2 separate regions of the Homo sapiens genome follow, and region 2 is linked to region 1. Evidence: fine-mapped expression QTL. Tissue or cell type: whole blood. Region 1 holds a variant in brackets; the other region holds the start of a gene. All regions are shown on one strand. Distances are from middle to middle.

Evidence for each region. PIP is the estimated chance that this variant, and not a neighbour inherited with it, causes the effect.
Region 2: it holds the start of TMTC2, and the variant in region 1 is fine-mapped to the expression of TMTC2 in whole blood (INTERVAL, PIP 0.96).

What each region holds. Positions count from the first base shown.
Region 1 is chr12:82,912,188-82,922,583 of GRCh38, forward strand. All of the region lies in intron 3 of TMTC2 (transmembrane O-mannosyltransferase targeting cadherins 2), which reads left to right. Among named protein-coding and RNA genes, the nearest start is that of TMTC2, 230 kb to the left of the region's middle. The variant A/C (reference allele first, on the strand shown) is at 6,062.
Region 2 is chr12:82,682,445-82,690,444 of GRCh38, forward strand. It overlaps TMTC2 (transmembrane O-mannosyltransferase targeting cadherins 2), which reads left to right and starts at 4,462. Exons shown (of 12, transcript NM_152588.3): 1 at 4,462-5,225. The coding sequence starts at 5,143. RefSeq lists silencers at 3,413-3,492, 4,343-4,442, 5,013-5,062, 5,423-5,482 and enhancers at 3,923-4,072, 4,093-4,302.

The DNA of each region.
Region 1 (10,396 bases):
GACATTTTAAGTGTAGAAAGAAGGAACTGGGTTAGAAATGTAATATATCAGCTCAGAGTCAAGTTTTGACAAGAACAGATTACCCAGGTGTCAAAGCATGGCGTTTTCTTCTTAAGATGCCTGGAATAGCAGAGGAAACTTACAGTCGTTTAATATTTGGGGCTCTGTGTAGGAACTTGGAAGTCATATCATAAAGAAATGTGATTTTTTTTCTGCTCTTCTTACCTCTCCTTGCTTAGGATAAGAGAGTAAATATCTCAACTTGTATTTCATGAGACTACCAGCAAAGACCACAAGGTCTAAGATATTTTGAAATGTTTTCCTTTTTCACCAAGTCAGTTGACTTAATCTCTTTGAGATTTGCAAACAAGTTTTGATGGTTTGCAGTACTGGTGTTGAGTAATCTGAATATTTTCCAAAGATGATGGCATCATGTTACCTTCACAATTGTGGTTAAGAATGAATGGTGGTTGGGTGCAGTGGTTCTCGCCTATAATTCTAGCACTTTAGGAGGCAGAGATGGGTGGATCACTTGAGCCCAGGAGTTTGAGACCTGCCTGGGCAACATGGTGAAACCCTGTCTCCACAAAAAATTCAAAAAATAGCTGAGTGTGGTGGTGCATACCTGTAGTTGCAGCTACTTGGGGGGCTGAGGTGGGAGGATCACCTGATCCTGGGGAGGTCGAAGCTGCAGTACGCTATGGTCACGCCACTGCACTCCAGCCTGGGTGACAGAGTTGAGACCTTGTCTGAAAAAAAAAAAAAAAAGAATGGGTGGTAATATTCATATTCATGTAAATATTTACAATAATTTTAAGTTAGAAAGGAGTTTCTGTGCTTGCATAATGAAAACATTAGTATATTACGATTACTGTACAAACCCATGTATTCTGCATTTTTCTTATCTCTAATCACAGTGATAAATTTAAAATTACTTTTTGTTCTTGAAATGCTATTATTTGGAAGCAACAGTACAGAATTTTAAAATTTCTTTTGCCATTACACTTTAGCACAATGATTTTGAGATAGTTTTTGAGGGCAGTTGATGAAGTCACTAAAGTCCTAATGCCATGCTTCTGTTCTCTGTGGTACCATTCCAGAAGCAAGAGGCTGTGCACTGCTTTGGGCAGAGGACCATCATACTTTGGTTTTGGCTTTTGCTGGTTCTCAGCTCATTCTCACATTGAGCCTGGAGCAGACATTTACTTTTGAGGTTTTAAGTTAAAAATTAGGGTTTAAAGAAGTATATCCTAAGACCCAGTTCTGATTATTTGAAAGGAAAATGTGGCTTCTCTATGAGTTTTAATCATCCTGACATGTCAATAATCTGACAAGATTATTTAAAACTCATGAATAGAATATATGGCTTTATATCTAAGACCACACATCTAGTCATATTTTTTAATTGGTAATATTCATTAATCACTGGTTTTGACATATTTCCTGATTTTTCCTCTATCTTACTTAACCCTCTGGGTACTAGCTTCTTTTTAATACATGGAAGTATAACTTTCTGAATTGTAGTTTCAAGACTTTTATATGTATAACAGCATTCTCTATTTCAATATCATGTTTTTCAGTTCATACAAAAATGGCTCATACTCAAGTACCGTTGTCCCTTGATATATGTGGAGGATTGGTTCCAAGACCACACACTTAAAAACAAATCCCTGCATACTCAATTCCCACAGTTGGCCCTGCAGAACCAGAATATAGGAAAAGTCAGTACTCTTTATACGTGGGTTTCAAATCCCACAAATACTGTATTTTCAGTCTGTGTTTGGTTGAAAAAAAAAATCCACATATAAGTAGAACCAGGCAGTTCAAACCTATGTTGTTCAAGGGTGACATGTATTTGCACAGTCTTCAGAATTCTTGTCTGCTTGTCCTGTACCAGCAAAGAAGGCAAAGAAAATTAACTTCCCATTCTTTTCTGTTGTTAAATCAACTGAAAGTACAGAAGAAATGCTTTAAAATGATACGTGCCCAAGATTTTTGCATATAGCAAAGATAATTGATATTTTATTTTAGAGATCTCAGTTATTTACAAATAATTGTCCTCATTAGCACATGTAAATATTTTTCTACTCACATAAATATTTTATTTGCATTTTTTACTCATCATTTCTTTTTTTTAAAAAAATTCTCTTTTCTCTAGTATTTACTTTTGCCCTGTTCAACACTAGCTACTGGATTGATCACAGTGAATGCCAAAAATTAACATATAGAAGTTAACACATGGAATATTCTCCCTGATGTACTATATTTGAGAGGTACTATATTTATAACTTATAAGCAGATTTTTAAAATAAGATGCAATCTTTAGGATTTTCATTATTTTTTAAATCTTAAAATTGACCTTTAGAGTATTCAATATTGCCTTTAGTTATGTTTTTGTTGCCCTGGATTTGGTTGGCAATGCGATTCTCAGTAGCATGAGCATAGATAATGAATAGGGCAGATTTACTATAAAAGTGTATATCGAATTGGTTATGCTTTTAGTATATAATAATCCATTAATGAAATATACCATCTCCATAATAATGTGCTTTCCAAGGAGTTACACATCTATGTTAATTTAATATGTGACTCAGAGTTTAGTTTAGGCAAGCATCATTACAACTCACTTATTTTTTTTTTTTTTTTTTTTTTTTTGAGACGGAGTTTCGCTCTTGTTGCCCAGGCTGGAGTGCAATAGTGCGATCTTGGCTCACTGCAACCTCTGCCTCCCAGGTTCAAGTGATTCTCCTTCCTCAGCCTCCTGAGTAGGTGGGATTACAGGCATGCACCACCACGCCCGGCTAATTTTGTATTTTTAGTATAGATGGTGTTTCTCCATGTTGGTCAGGCTGGTCTCGAACTCCTGACCTCAGGTGGTCTGCCCACCTCAGCCTCCCAAAGTGCTGGGATTACAGGCATGAGCCACTGTGCTCGGCCTTACAATTCTTTTACAGATGAGAAACTAAGAGAGGCAGGATGCTTAAGGAGCATGGTTAAAGATTCCAAACTTTGCAGTAAGGTAGATGTGGGTATTGATTATAACTCATTTATAGTGGTTATTGTTCCTCCTTATTAGTGTTATCATCTATAGAGTGAGTATAGCAATACCATCTTGTGGTTATGCATAGCATACCTAGCCCAGGGTTTGTCCCACATTACATATTTACTAAATTATTGCTTTTACTATGAAATAGGAAGTAGAAGAGTTAAGTAATTTACTTGGTTGTACCCAAATCTAACTGGTAACAGGGCTAGTACTACAACGTAGATTTCGGACATTTTGTTTTATGTTTCTGTATCAAAGTTCCTTTAGTGACTTATAGTAGGAAACTAACCTCGGGCCTCGGGCCATTAGGTGGCAGGAACATACCTGATGGCTGGATCCACTGTGAGATAAAACAGATGTGGTTTGGGCGATAAAATTAAAAAGGGAATTTAAGGGAGAAAATGGATTCTTTTTGTTCCCCCTGAAGTTGTTTGGAAATCGTAATTCTGTACAAGTCGTCTAAGAACTCTTGGTCTTTCTAAGGGTTCTTCATCTTTTATACCTGAACCAAACTCAAATGATCCCAATTGTGTTAGAAGCAAGCTGTAAGGGCTGCTTGGAGACAATTCTATTCCTGATACAAACTCAGAGGCAACTTGTACTCTTTGGGATTTACCATAAATCAAAAGGAACTGGTATTTTAATGGAAGACAAAATCTATCATTGTTAATAATCAAGACTGCGTACAGCAACTCAACGTCTGTCATCCCTGCTCTTTGGGAGGCCAAGGCAGGAGGATTGTTTGAGGCCAGAAGTTCCAGACCAGCTTGATCAACATAGAAAGACCCAGTATTTATGGAGAAAAAATTTAAAACAGAAAAATAATAATTAAAAAAGGTACTGGTTGGATGACTGCATGGGCTATGCGATCAGCCATATATGAGGAATTTCTAAAAAGCCTTTACTGAATTGGTATAGTTGTTACATAAACAGGACCACTATTTATGACATTCTAGTATATATATTCCCCAAGTGTTCCATTAACTACTTTTGACAGTGTGATAGGCAAAATAGGTTTGTTGCCTGTGATTTGAGGAGAGCCTCAAGGCTTGTTGCTCCCAAATTCTCTCCCTTTGGCCAGTCATTATATTTGAAAATGCAGTTATATTAATTGTCTTTACTATAATACCATGTGCTAGTTTGTCAGAAACTGTGTAGAGCACATTGTTATTAGGGACATAGGGCAAAATTGAGAAGCCATGGGAAAAATTTTGCATAGAGAAGAAATGGATGGAAGACAAGTGCATGCAAACCCCAAAATAAAAATCGAACACTATGAGTGGTACTGGCAGCAGACCTGAGCCATGGATGTGAGGATGGCTCATAGTCAAATTCAGGAATATGGTAGAGATTGCAGATGGTAAAATGCCAAGGAACAACCGTAGATACACTAAAACAAAACGAACATGGGTGCTGGATTATACATGTGGATATTACAGTATGCACATAGATGTTATAGTGACAAATAATGCTGTCTAGACTAACAGTGTTAATATATTATTGAAGTACTAAATTTTATGTTTACATTAAAATTTTTTTCTTATTGGGAATACGTTTAGTTTCAGATCTATCTGAAATAACTACAGATAGGGGAAAGAGAAATAATTGTATCTTGTAGAATTCCTGTAATTAGAATTACATATAAGTACATAGGATATGTGTTGTGATAACATATGAATCATGATCTTTAAATCATAGCCACTTCTTCTACTTAATATTTTAACTATATCTGTTTTATTTACCTACTTACTATTATGTTCTTTTCTGTAATAATCCGAGGTATAATTTCTTCAGAAAAAATAAATTCCTGTAGGCTTACAAAGGCTCTTATTTCCCTGGAGTCACATGAAGTGACTATCATACAATTAGTAAAATGCTCAGTCTACAAGTGTTGACCCCGCCCCATAGTCTTTGCTAATAGATGGAGTGGGAAGACAGTCTACTTTAAAAAACAGCAACAACACATTCATGCTCGTTTTCAGTTCCATGCAGTTAAATGGCTCTTTTTCTCCTCCCTTTGTTTTCTTTTTTTCCTTTTTTTCTCTCTCCATTGACATTAGAAAGTTTAACATAATTAACATTTATATTTTAAAATAATATTTATTTAAATTGTAGCTGGTAAGACCATTCATGGGGCACATCCAAAGTCCAAGACTTCCATTATGGTTAAAGGCAAGGACTTTGGAACCAGACAGACACATCTTTTTGTTCTCTTATCTTTTTGAGTGTCACTTCTGTAAGGCATGGTTTCTTCTTCTATTAATAGTACAAACTGGATGATAATGTAAGCTCATTTGTTATGAGGATTAGGAGAGATCACATATGCATACACAAGTCTAGCTTAAAATTGGCTTTTATTTTATTTATTTATTTATTTATTTATTTAGAGACAGAGTCTCACTCTGTCACCCAGGCTGGAGTGCAGTGGTACCATTTCGTCTCACTGCAAGCTCCGCCTCCAGGGTTCATGCCATTCTCCTGCCTCAGCCTCCCCAGTAGCTGGGACTACAGGCCCCTGCCACCAGGCCCGGCTAATTTTTTTGTATTTTTAGTAGAGACAGGGTTTCACCGTGTTAGCCAGGATGGTCTTGATCTCCTGACCTCGTGATCCACCCGCCTTGGCCTCCCAAGTGCTGGGATTACAGGCGTGAGCCACTGCTCCCGGCCAGCTTTTATTTTTTTGAGACAGGGTCTCACTCTGTCACCCAGGCTAGAGTGCAGTGGTGCCATCACAAATCACTGTAGCCTTAACCTCCCAGGCTGAAGGCATTCTCCCACCTCAGCCTTGACCTCCTAGGCTCTAGCGATTCCCTCACCCCAGCCTACAGCATGCATCACCATGTCTGGCTAAGTTTTGTATTTATTGGGGTTTTACCCTGTTGCCCAGGCTGGTCTTGAACTCCTGGACTCAAGCAATCCGCCCAGCTTGGCCTCCCAAAGTACTAGATTATAGGTATGAGCCACTGCGCCTGGCCAAAATTGGCTTTTAATCTGAATAAAAACAATTCTTAGTAG[A/C]TATATTAAGCACTACTATATTAAGTGCAAATAAGTTATTTTCTTTTGCAGACGGTTTGTGATAGATGACTGGCAAGATTGCAATTTTTACCTCCTCATGGAAGTAACACTTTGATTTCAAACAAGTAACTCAGCGTTGGTGGAAGCAAAATTTAGGATTTATCCCCTTTTTAATGCAGTTAAGTACTTCAATTTTGGCAGATTCTTACATAGAACTCAAGATTTTCATATAGGGACAAAGACATATGTTAAATTTGTAAGGTTTAAAATGAATTATAGCTGAAGCACGAAACAAGAATGAGAGTCCTTACCACATTTAGTGACTGTGCAGTGTATTAGTAAAATGAAAATGCTGAGATGATAACCCAAAGAGGAGTGATTACTTATGCAGACCTGAATGTTAAATAGGTAAAAATTAAATATTAAGAAATTCATTTATCTTTTTATTTTATCTTTTTTCTTTTCTTCTCTCTCTCTCTCTCTCTCTCTCTTTCTCTCCCTCTCTCTCTCTCTCTCTCCCTCTCTTTGAGACAGAGTCTTGCTCTGTTGCTCAGGCTGGAGTGCAGTGGTGCGATCTCGGCTCACTGCAACCTCCACCTCCCAGGTTCAAGTGATTCTTCTGCCTCAGCCTCCTGAGTAGCTGGGACTACAGGTGCCTGCCACCACGCCTGGCTAATTTTTGTATTTTCAGTAGAGATGGGGTTTCACCATGTTGGCCAGGCTGGTCTTGAGCTCCTGACCTTGTGATCCGACAGCCTTGGCTTCCCAGAGTGCTGGGATTACAGGCGTAAGCCACCACACCCAGCCTCTTTTTTAACAAAACAAAACAACACAAAGACATGTATTTGGCTCACAGTTTTAGAGACTGGGAAGTCCAAGAGTATTGTGCTGGCATCTGGCAAGGGTTGAACTGTAACAGAAGGCAAAAGAGAAAGAGAGCACATATGAGAGAAAAAGCATGAGGGGCTGGGCTTGCTTTTATAACAGTTCACTCTAGTGAAAACTGACCCACTCATGTATTAACATTAATGCATCCATGAGGGCTTCACCCTTGTGACCCAGTCACTTCTTATTAGGACCTACCTCCCAATGCAGTTACATTGGGAATTAAGTTTACAGCATGCTGAGTTTTCAGGGCACATGCAAACCATACATTTTGTACCAGGCACCCAAAATTTATGTCCTTCTTATAATGCAAAAATACATTCATTTCATCCCCAAAGTCCCAAAAGCCTTAACTTGTTTCCATCAACTCAAAAATCCAAAGTCCAGAGTCGTATCTAAATGAGATATGGGTGATGCTCAAGGCATGATCTGTATAGAGGCAAATTCCTTCCAGATGTGAGCCTGTAACATCAAAGCAAGTTATCTACTTCAAAAATACAACAGTGAAACAGGCATAGGGTAGGCATTCTCGTTCTAAAAGGGAGAAAGAGGAAAGAAGAAAAGAGTAACTAGTCCCTACTAAATCCATAACCCAGTAGGGAAAACAATACGAAGTCTTAAAACTGGAGAATAATCTCCTTTGTTTCCATGTCCCATATCCTGAGCACACTGATATAGGGGTTGGGCTCTCAAGACACTGAGAACTGCCACGCCCATGGCTTTGCTGGGCTCAGCCCACATTTCCGCTCTCTCAGACTGGCATCGTACACTGGTAGCTCTACAGTTCTGTGGTCTTCTGAGCCCTCCCATGGCAATATAGGCTTTTTCTAGCCTGATTCTCCAAATTTCCAACCTCCACCCGTTATGCAGTTCCAAAGCTGCTTCCATATTTTCAGGTGTTGTTATAGCAACAACCCTGCTCTAAGTATCAATTTTCTATATTAGTCTGTTTTCTGCTCTTCTAGCTATTTTTTCAAAGAGCAGTGTATGCCAAATTATGAAAAACTCATTATAACTTCTTTTATAATTAATGAATATATATAATTTCTTCAAATTACTAACATAAGAAAAAATCTTAAAAAACTTTCTCAAATCTCCCTGTATTGATTTTGTGAAGTATATCAGAGATATGAAATTGCAATAGTTACTTCAGAGTAAGTTTGAATTTACTCTATAAACTTAAAACTACCATGTATTTGAAATTGGAACTTTGAAAAAATTTAGAGGTATTTATTGTAGCAGATCACAGCATTTCTAGAGGGACCTCACATTTGATTTTCTCTTTAGAACAACTTCAGCAAGATGGGAATATTTAATTGTTCTTCTGCCTTTCAAAGAACATCAAACCATGGCAGACTGTGGACTAAGTACAAGAGAAGCTTTCATTGTGAATTAACATCAAGTTTCTTAGTAAATGGATACCTTTTAGAGGTAGTTTAGTTTAATATCAATGTGAAGGGCCCTTGAGATATAAGAGTTATTCCTACTTCTTCACTTCTTGATTTTTTTTAGCAGAAGAATTTCTTTTTATTTTTGAATATAAAATAACTCCACAGATCATATTTTCTAGAGCTTATCCAGTGATATTTAGAAGTGTCTGTTTGCCTTCTCTTAATATACTAATTATATATGCTTAGTCTTAGGATTGAAGTTGCTTACTTATTAAACAATGCTTATTAAATCTCTGTCACATGTAAAGTATCTTCAGGGCACTAAGAAGAATGGATAAATATACCAAAGTTCCCAGCCGGCATCTTTGAGCAACAACCATTTGTTTACGTAGGCAGGATATGTTCAGTTCCAATATGTTAACAGGAAAATATGACATATAAAATTATATTCCCAAAGAAATGTAAAACATTTGATATACTACTTGGCATTAATTTTTCTCTGGTCTGAAAAATATATTATGAAATATGGATACCAGATAGTTTTATTTTGTTACTACTGAGGGTTTTTTTTTCCCCCTAGCAGTTCTGAGAGGATAACTCATTTGGATAATTTTGTTTTCATATTTATGCTATAGTCCCTAAATTAAAATTATTAAAACATATTAAGTACCATCTTATGATATTCTACCTTCTATTCAAACTCAATATTGAGAGGGTGAAATAGCCTTGCCTCTGACCACATTTGGATGCCTGGAAACATATCTGAATCTTCCTTGTTATTACATCTGCTACTTAGGAGGCTTAACCTCAGTTTTCTCATCTGTGAAATGAGGATAGTAATACTATAGACCCCAAATGTTTGTATTAGTTTAAATGAATTGAGGAGACTACCAAGGATGTAGTAATTGTTAAATAAATGTAAATACTATTATTGTTGTTATTTTTATTATAATTTTTAAAATTTCTTCTTCATCTCCTTCTCCCCTTCCCATTCTTTCGCTCTCTTTAGGCTGTCACAGTGCTGCAATGCAGGCCCTTGAGATGGAGCAGTAGCCCTTCCAAGTTAGAGCAGTTTCATATGAAGTTTATTTTGTTTAAAACAGGAATGAAATGAATACTCTGAATATTTGGAAACTTCATTGGGAAAAAACTTTTCAAAATTAGATTGGGATTTTGGAACAACAATTATATTTTTTGAACTTCAGATAAATGCTTTATTATATTATATCCAGGGTTGAAAGTGTGATTTGCATTCATCTATAGACATACTCTGTTAAAATGTGGACTTTTAGGCTGGGTGCAGTGACTCATTCCTGTAATCCCAGCACTTTGCAAGATCAAGGTGGGAGGATCGCTTGAGTTCAGGAGTTTTTGACCAGCCTGGGCAACATAGTGAGACCCACCTCTACAAAAATTAAAATTAAAAAAAAAAAAAGGCCAGTCATGGTGGTGCACATTTGTAGTCTCAGCTACTCGGGAGGCTGAGGTGGGAGGATTGCTTAAGCCCAAGAGGTTGAGGCTGCACTGAGCCATGATCATGCCACTGCACTCCAGCCTGGGCAACAGGAAAAAATAAATGTGGACTTTTAAAGCATTTGTAACTGTTATTTACACTTCATCACACTTCACTGAAAGAACTTGGAGAATTTTATTTCAATAAAATTGCACTTTTAAAAGATTATATGAAATGAATACACCAATAAAATATACAGGCTTAAACATGTAAAAAATGCACATTATATTAAATGTTAATGAAAATACAAAGTCTTTGAGTGGTCCAAAGAATAAGTACCAAAGTGAAAATTTGAAGATAATCCCAAACATCTGTTTTGAATTATCTTTCTAAAAAAAAGGTTAAGTGTATGTTAAAACCTTTTATTCCTTAAGTAGGATATAGCATAACTGCATCTCTATTTTAAAAGAAGATGATGTGTGACCTTAATTTTATTTTGTTTCCTTTCTTTTCCTACCTTCCTTTTCCTTCTCTTTCTCTTTTTTTTTCCCTTCACTGCAGTTTCAGGTTAATCCCTGTAAGCTTCCTCTATTTTATTCATGTATT
Region 2 (8,000 bases), 230 kb before region 1:
ACATGTGTTGCCAATGCATTTACAGTCATTAGTTAACCAAGCCGCCCATGTGCCTGTCTCAGCTCCCTGACCCACATTTCATCCATGCTCTGCTGTTTTTCTCCTGCAGGGTTATTTCCTGAGTAAATCCCAGAGCTTATGAGTCCCCCAGCAGAGAGCTCTGTTCTGACCTCCCTAAACAGGCAGTTTCACCTGCTGGGCTAGTGTTTTTCTGCTTCTTAGTCAATCTGTTAAAATTTTAGCAGGAGATACTTGGATACCTTTTCAGAAAACATATGGAAGATTGTAATTATTTTGGCCCAGTACAATTTTAGAATTGAGAGAGCAAGGAAGAGGCGCAAATCTCCTGCTCATAAATAACCAAATCTGTGGGCACTTTAAAAAGCATTCTGTGCAGCAAGAGAATTTACGTGCCACATTTCACCCTTGGCACACTTTCCAAATGAATTGTTCAAAGAGAAGTTATATTAGGACAAATAGAAATGACGACCAGGACCAGATGTGGATCTTTAGTTAATATTTATGCAACACCCAAAGGGAAGATAGTATTGCACAATAAACTAAAAATGTCTTAGGCAAATAAGGAAATCTTTACCCTGAGGAACTGGCACTGCAAAGGTATGAATTATACAACAAAGGACTGAGAATGCAGAACAAATGCAGGGTAGGTCGGGGCTACTATAAAAAGGAATTCATTGAGGAAGTGGTGAGGTAGCAGATGTGTGGAGCCTACTTCAGGAAAATAAGGGCTTAGCGCTTTTTTGGCCAGTATTGTGTCTAAGGTAGAAAATTCAAGCCAGCCATCCTAATTTCCTTCACCTGTGGAGAGCAACTGTCGCTTTAAATAGAACATACACATATTCAGAACTGATGCTGCAACCTTACATCAAATAAGTACACCTTGATAAACTAAAAACCTATGTCCTCAGATTTTAAATGATCTCCAACAATAATGATGACATCTTTAATCTGATTTTCCTCCTAAAGTTGTTCCAGGAAGGTAGAAAATTCAGGAATTGGCTGCTTCTCAGCCCTTGGAGAGCAATCTAAAAGAGACCATGGCTTAATGCTCTGGAAGGATATTGAAACCTACATTAAATTATAATAGAAAAATTTGTTAAAAGCAACTGGATTTCTCAAACACAGCTAGGTTTTCAGCCTTCTGTTTATCAGGGAAGGCAAGATGTGCCATTTTACAGCCCATCTCCCAGTCACCTAGGCTTCCAATTCAGAGGTATTGGGAGGTGGGGAAAGGAGAAAACGAGGAGATGGAGGAGTGTATAAAATTTATTTAAAACTATTGGAGCCATGGCTGGGCGCAGTGGCTCATGCCTATAATCCCAGCACTTTGGGAGGCCAAGGCAAGTGGATAACTTGAGGTCAGGAGTTCAAGACCAGCGTGGGCAACATGGTAAAACCCCCGTCTCTATTAAAAATACAAAAATTAGTCGGGCTTGATGGCACACACCTACAATCCCAGCTACTGGGGATGCTGAGGCAGGAGAATCGCTTGAGCCCGGGAGGCAGAGGTTGTAGTGAGCCAAGATCGGGCCACTGCACTCCAGCTTGGGCGACAGAGTGAGATTCTGTTTCAAAAAAAAAAAAAAATTAAAAATTAAATTAAACTATTGGAGCCTTAAAAATGAACACAGCTGTGGAAAAGGCTTACAAGCTTTTAGCATGTGGAACCCAAAGCTCTCTAATATTTTTACATATCTGAGTCCTCTTAATAACTGAAGAGACCTGTCCATGTGACTCCCCTTCACGGGTATTCCTGCAGACTTGATGTATTCTGAAAAACTGTGAACCTGCTCCCTTCCTCTCTCCTTGGTTAATACTTCACGATCTTTAACACTAACGACAAACAATAAATCAGCGATGAAAATTTTTGGATTTTCCAGCTGTTACGTAGTTTCTCCTAAGCACATTTATTTTGTTCATTTATTAACAATCTTTTTAAAGTTTCTTCTCCGTGTCCAGATGTTATAGGCTCTGGGTTTTATGTGGAAAAGAAGACTGACAGGATCCCTGACCTCATGGAGCTTCCACTCAGTGGTGCTTCCAGATACTAATACATACTATGAAGAAACTAATACATGGTGGTTGGATAGAGATTGATGGGGGAGAGCCTACTTTATTTCTGAGGTTATGCCATTTGAGCTAAGACCTGAATGGTGAGAAGGAGCTAGAGAAGGTTTGAGGAGAAGAACCTCATGCAGGAGGAAGAGAAAGTGGTTAGTTCCTGAGAAGGATGTCTGTGTTGTACACATATGAACACAACATGAAGCGGGAGGGGTAGTCTGGGCTAAATGAAGGCTTGGCTGGCCATGGTAAGAATTAGTTTTATTAGCTGTAAAACAGGAAGTTGTTGGACATTTAAAAATACAACAGGAAGTTGTGGAACATTTAAAAATTGGGAATGTATAGGTTTTCAAAGGAAACTTCTGCCTAAAGTTAAAATTGGGGAAGGGAGGCATTGCAGGGGTAGAAGTACGGGGACCACTTAGAGGGCTACTGCATTTGTCTATGCAGGAGATGAGGGCAGCTGGGCTGTGGACTCAAGTAGTAAAGATGTGATAGGATGTGTTTTGGAGGTAACTGTCCAGGTTTTTGTTAACAAGTAAAATGAAACGAGGAAGCTAGAAAGCATAGTAATAATGATATACTAGCTAATACTTCTGTAGCACTTTCCTGGTCCCTTTTAGATATTTTACATAGGTTAACTACTTTAATACTCATAATAACAGTACTCATAAGATAAGTACTATTATTATCACTGTTTCATAGATTAGAAAACAGAGTCACAAAGAGGTTGAACGACTGGCCAAAGATCGCCCAAATAGTAATAGCAGAGTATGCACTCAAACTTAAACATCTGATCCCACAGTATGTGTTCTTCCTTCAGTGTTCTAGGACACCATATACATATTTTATATATACTATATATATCTCAGCATGTAAGTGCATTGGAGAGACACAGAGCATCAGGATGGACTAACTGATATGATTTTCAAAATTTTCAAGTGAGCAAAGGTTATGGAGGAAAAGGGTAAAAGATCAGTCCCTACCTGTAAAGACATAATTCCTTTTATTTTTGTTTACATATATTTGTCCAGGGCACAAAAAATGTGCTACTGTGGATGGCATAACAGGTATAATATTAATAAATATTCATCATTTTATCTGTGTGTATCCAATACAGATTTCTCAGATTTCCTTGTGAAATCAGGGAAATATGTAGCTTTGTTCTACAGAAGCCCAGACCACGGTATTTTCTTTCCAGGCCACTGCTAGACACCCAGGGGGCTCAATTTCTTGCCACAGTTTCGGAGAGCTTGCTGGTTAGGTGCTGCTCTTGGTTGGAACCAGTCGGCCCGCATGCAAAACAGACCTGTCTTCCACACCTTGTGGTTACTATGCAGCAGGGGGCGCTGCAGTAGTGTACATCGCGGTGCACCGGAGCTACTCTCCTGGCCAGAAAGCCAACAAGCCGGGAGGAGGCGTGTCAGGCAGCCCTGGGTCCTCTTTGGTCTTGCAACTTTAGTACCCAGAGCTTGTTCTACACAGACCATTCTACACCATATTTCACCATGTTGGATGCTTTCCATCCAGTCCTGCCTCCGAGCGGAAAGGAAAGGGCATTAGCTTACTGCCTTACTAGGTTTAAGTATAATGCTGTACCGGCTTGCACTAGAGGTTTCTCTCCTGTGTTCTCAGGGTCAACCCGACAGTCCCTCTGAAACCACGAAGGGGTCCCCGGGCAGTTGCTGCGGGGTGTGTGTGTGTCTTTCTTTCCCTTTTTGGGGTCCTTTCTTTTTAACCTTACTGAAGGAGGAAACGTTTCTCTCCCTACACGTCTTTCCACTGACATTGTGGCCAACCGTAGGCTAAGAGCTGAAATCTCTCCTTCCTAAGTTGCCTCCAAGCTCTCCAATACTACCTCCTCCCCCCCATTTAGTCTCACACACAGTGTGCGTGAGAGATCGCCAGTGAGTTTGTGACAACCGAAGCTGCAGCAGTCGCCAAACCTGTTCTTCCTCTCCCGGTCTCAGAAGTCTCTCCAGCTGACCGGACTTACGCCTGGCAGCTCTTGGCACACACAGCGCTGTGGCTGAGATTCAGCCGTGCCAGGCGCTGCCAGGCAGCAGCGGGGCGACCGACCACCTCCTCCTCGACCTCCTTTCTCCCAGCTTCCCCTCCCAGGGTGCACTGTATCTACTCCTTTGGGCTGTCTTCCAGCCGTCGCCCTTGGGTCCCGGGGGCTTTCCAGAGTGAAATCGAAGGTGAAAGAAACAAGAGGACGGGAGGCTGGTAGGAGGAGCCTCCAGGCCGGGGAGGGTGGGAGGAGCCTCCAGCCCGAGGGGCAGGGTAGGAGGAGCCTTCCGGGAGGATCTGGGTGGAGAAAGGGGCTGGGCCAAGCCGGGATGGAGGGTTGGTCACGCAGGCGCGGGGGGCCGCGTCGAGAACCCCACGCGGGAGCTTCTGGAGTCTCCAGCCACCGCTTCTCACTTCACTGGAGAAGGGAGCTGGGGCTGGGGCTGGGGCTGGGGCTGGGAGGGAGCTAATAAACATTGAATGTGCAGCAGCTGCCTTGGCGGCCGGAGTCCGCCCGAGCGACACCGGAGCAGTGCGCCCGGGAGGCGGCGAGGGGAGGCGGTTCGCCTTGTCCCTCCCACCCGCGCCTCTTTCTCTCTCTTCCTCCAGCTGGTCCCAGAGCCCGGCTTGGTCCGGTCCCTCTGCCCCCATCCCGCACCCTTCCACCTCCTCCGAGTCCCACTCCTCACCTAGGACGCCCCAAACTGCCATGGGTTAGGGTGGGGATCGCGACCCGCGCGAAAGACCAGCCCTGCGCTTCCGCCGGGGGACGCGGAGCCCAAACGCCGCTCACCGCTTGCGGGCGCCGGGCATGGGGAGTGTGGTGTGAGCCCGCACCCGGGGAGGACGCAGGAGCTGCGGAGACGGGCGCGAGGAGGAGGAGAGGAGTCGTGGATTGGAAGGACCCGAGGGAGGGAGGGTGGGGAAGCGAGGGAAAAGTGAAGCTGGGAGGAGAAGGCGGCGGAAGGTGGAGATTGATGCTTCTGTTTTTTGTTGCCGCTGCTGCCCTCGCGCTGGGAGCCGAGCCGGAGGGAAGGCGGTGGAGAGATGATTGCAGAGTTGGTGAGCAGCGCTCTGGGGCTCGCCTTGTATCTCAACACCCTGAGTGCGGATTTCTGCTATGATGACAGGTAAGGGGCCGAGAGGAGGGGGCGACGGGCTGCAGGGGGCACACTCCGCAGTGGCTCTGAAGCTTCCCTCTTTAAGGCTCAAAGTGCGTCTTGGAGGAACTGGTTCAGCACCTGATGGTTTAGGCGACACGTAAACATTAACACCTAAATCAAACACCGGGGACGTGAGGCGCGCTGGGCGGGCCGAGGGAGTTTCCGCTCCTAGTTTGCAGCAGGTTCTCTCCCTTGCTTCTCGGCTGTTGGCAGACGCTTGAGTTTCTTAGCGGAAATCCCGGCAATTTGGGAAACTGTTTAATGAACGTATTAAATTAAAGTCTTAGGTATTCCTTGATGCAACAAAGCACATTAAGTGATTTTACGTCTGGTTGGGAGGAAGCCTCTCCTCGATCCCTGATAGATCCTCCCTGTCCCGTTTCCTTTTATTGATGGGACACTTTTATTTCCCGAAGTTAAAACACACGTTTGATAGTTGCCAAAATTGTGAAAAGGGAGATCGTTCTCTGCTTTAACTTTCCCTTTTAACGTGTATAGACTTTTACTTTGAGCCAAAATAATGCTGCTGATGGTCTCTCCCGCCGCCCTAGCCTCCTTCACCAATCCATTGGGCAGCACTTTATAAAAGCCTCGGCTTTCTCATTTCTGTTTGGGAGTTGTACATTAGATGTTAGTGGTTCTTTTGTACTAATTGGAGAAGAAGACGCCCCTAGAGACTGAAGTTGTCTTCTGCACTTAGGTTAGTTTGGGTGGCTAATGAGACCTGAACTGTGTTGTCAAAGAAACTGCATCGATTTCTGGAAAATGTCACCGTTGTGTTGGTGTCTCTTCCTATCTTTTAAACGTTATTAGTGTTCAGAAAGTGATGAAAAGCCCCTATATCCATTAGGGAAAATTCCAATTTGTGTCCTTCCGGTGTCTTAATCTGATTACAATTAAAACAGATGCATAATTAAAATATATTAGGGATAACAGCACGCCTGGCTAAACTTATTAACCGTCCTGGGGTGTTTCATGCTCCATTGAAATTAAACCATCCAAAAAGTGAGCACAGATTTACTTTGACAGCTTTTCAGCAGCCTCTCTGAGCTATGAAAAGTGAATGGATCCCCAGGGTTAGGGCGAGGCAGTGAGAGCACTTACGCAAAGTGGTTGACAGTGAGGGGAGGTGAAGGCAGAATCTTCTTCTCGTCGTAATTAGCCACATTCTGTATTCTCTGGTGTGCCCATTCTCCTGCTAAAAGCATCTTCACATCTCTGTTAAAAAATCACCTGATAATAGGTGCCAGAACATCCAGCAAACCCGTCTTAATGCATTTTATGTAGTGCCTACCAGAGGCTAGTTGATAGGGAACCACTGTTAGACATACATTTTTTCTTAACTTTTACGCAGCATACTGATTTTAGCAACTACACAGCATGCTCTGAGAAATGGTCTGTAGGAGTGAGGTAAATTTCTGTTCTCTCCAATTTTGTGTAATGGTGCACCTGCTATTTCTAGCATATTCGTGGAAAAAGCCCTTGTTTCCAAAGATGGGTGACTTTTCACTAAAACCAGCTTGGGTCAGTGTGGGCAGTTACTGGCTCTGTTGGGGGCGGTTTGAATAGTAAGCATTTAAACCAAGAATATAGAGTTTATTTAAAAAAAGAAACTTACTATAATAATGCAACTTGATGGGTGACTTTTCACTAAAACCACCTTGGGTCAGTGTGGGCAGTTACTGGCTCTTGGGGGCAGTTTGAATAGTAAGCATTTAAACCAAGAATATAGAGTTTATTTAAAAAAAGAAACTTATTATAATAATGCAACTTGTTATAGAACACGGTGGTGAATCAAGTATTCCTATTGTATGCCCTTGTTCATTGCTGTCTAATCCTTAAGAAAATACACATCAGAAGAAGCCATTCTTTAAAAATTAAGGTTAAATTTGGATATGCATTTTTCTATAGGTATAATTGTTCTGTGCTCTTGAGTCATCAGAAGTGTTAGGACTGGACCTTGTAACTTGGAAGAATGGTGTGAGTGTGATGATAAATTAGTTGTGCTTTGATGGTTGGCAGTTGTAAGTTTTTCAGATGCAATAGTCTAATGGAGTGTTAAAATTCGTGACTTCTATCTTGTAGCTACATAGGTGAATATAGTATGATTATTTGCCCATATGATTTTATTGATAGCATGCTCAATATGATGTCTAGATAGTATATATTGATAAAATATTGAGGGCCTGTAACTGTGAATTATACTTTGCTACAATTTGAAAAGTGTATTTTACACTGATTTCTTAGCAGAACTACATATGCCATCACATATTCTTAGAATGTGAAATCTTAAGAGCAGCAAACTTTGTTTTTATGTATCCTAGAAATTATGAGACACATAAATAGGAGCACTGAACTTATTTGTTGTATGCACAGCCTGTTCAAGTGATTCATTGTGAAGTTACACTATAAATTGTGGCTTTTCTGATATATTTTCTATCTAACTACTGTAACTCACTGGTGTGTGAAGGGGGAGGAAAGCTGGGGAGCCAAGTGTAAACTGTAGGATGATGATAATTTGTTTATTTCCGCTACTACATTTCAGATGCAAAGATTCATGTTTAAAACATTGCTTAAACTAGACCTGTGGATTCTGCTGCCCTCCAGGAACTTTTGTGAAATCCAGTTCTGTAAGGAGAGGCCAGTGCCAGAAGTGAAGGGAGAAGCACTCAAGGGAGATGGCTGTTATTCCTGACTTGCTTAACTAAATCATTATTGCTGTGGTACTTCTCAAGGTTATCA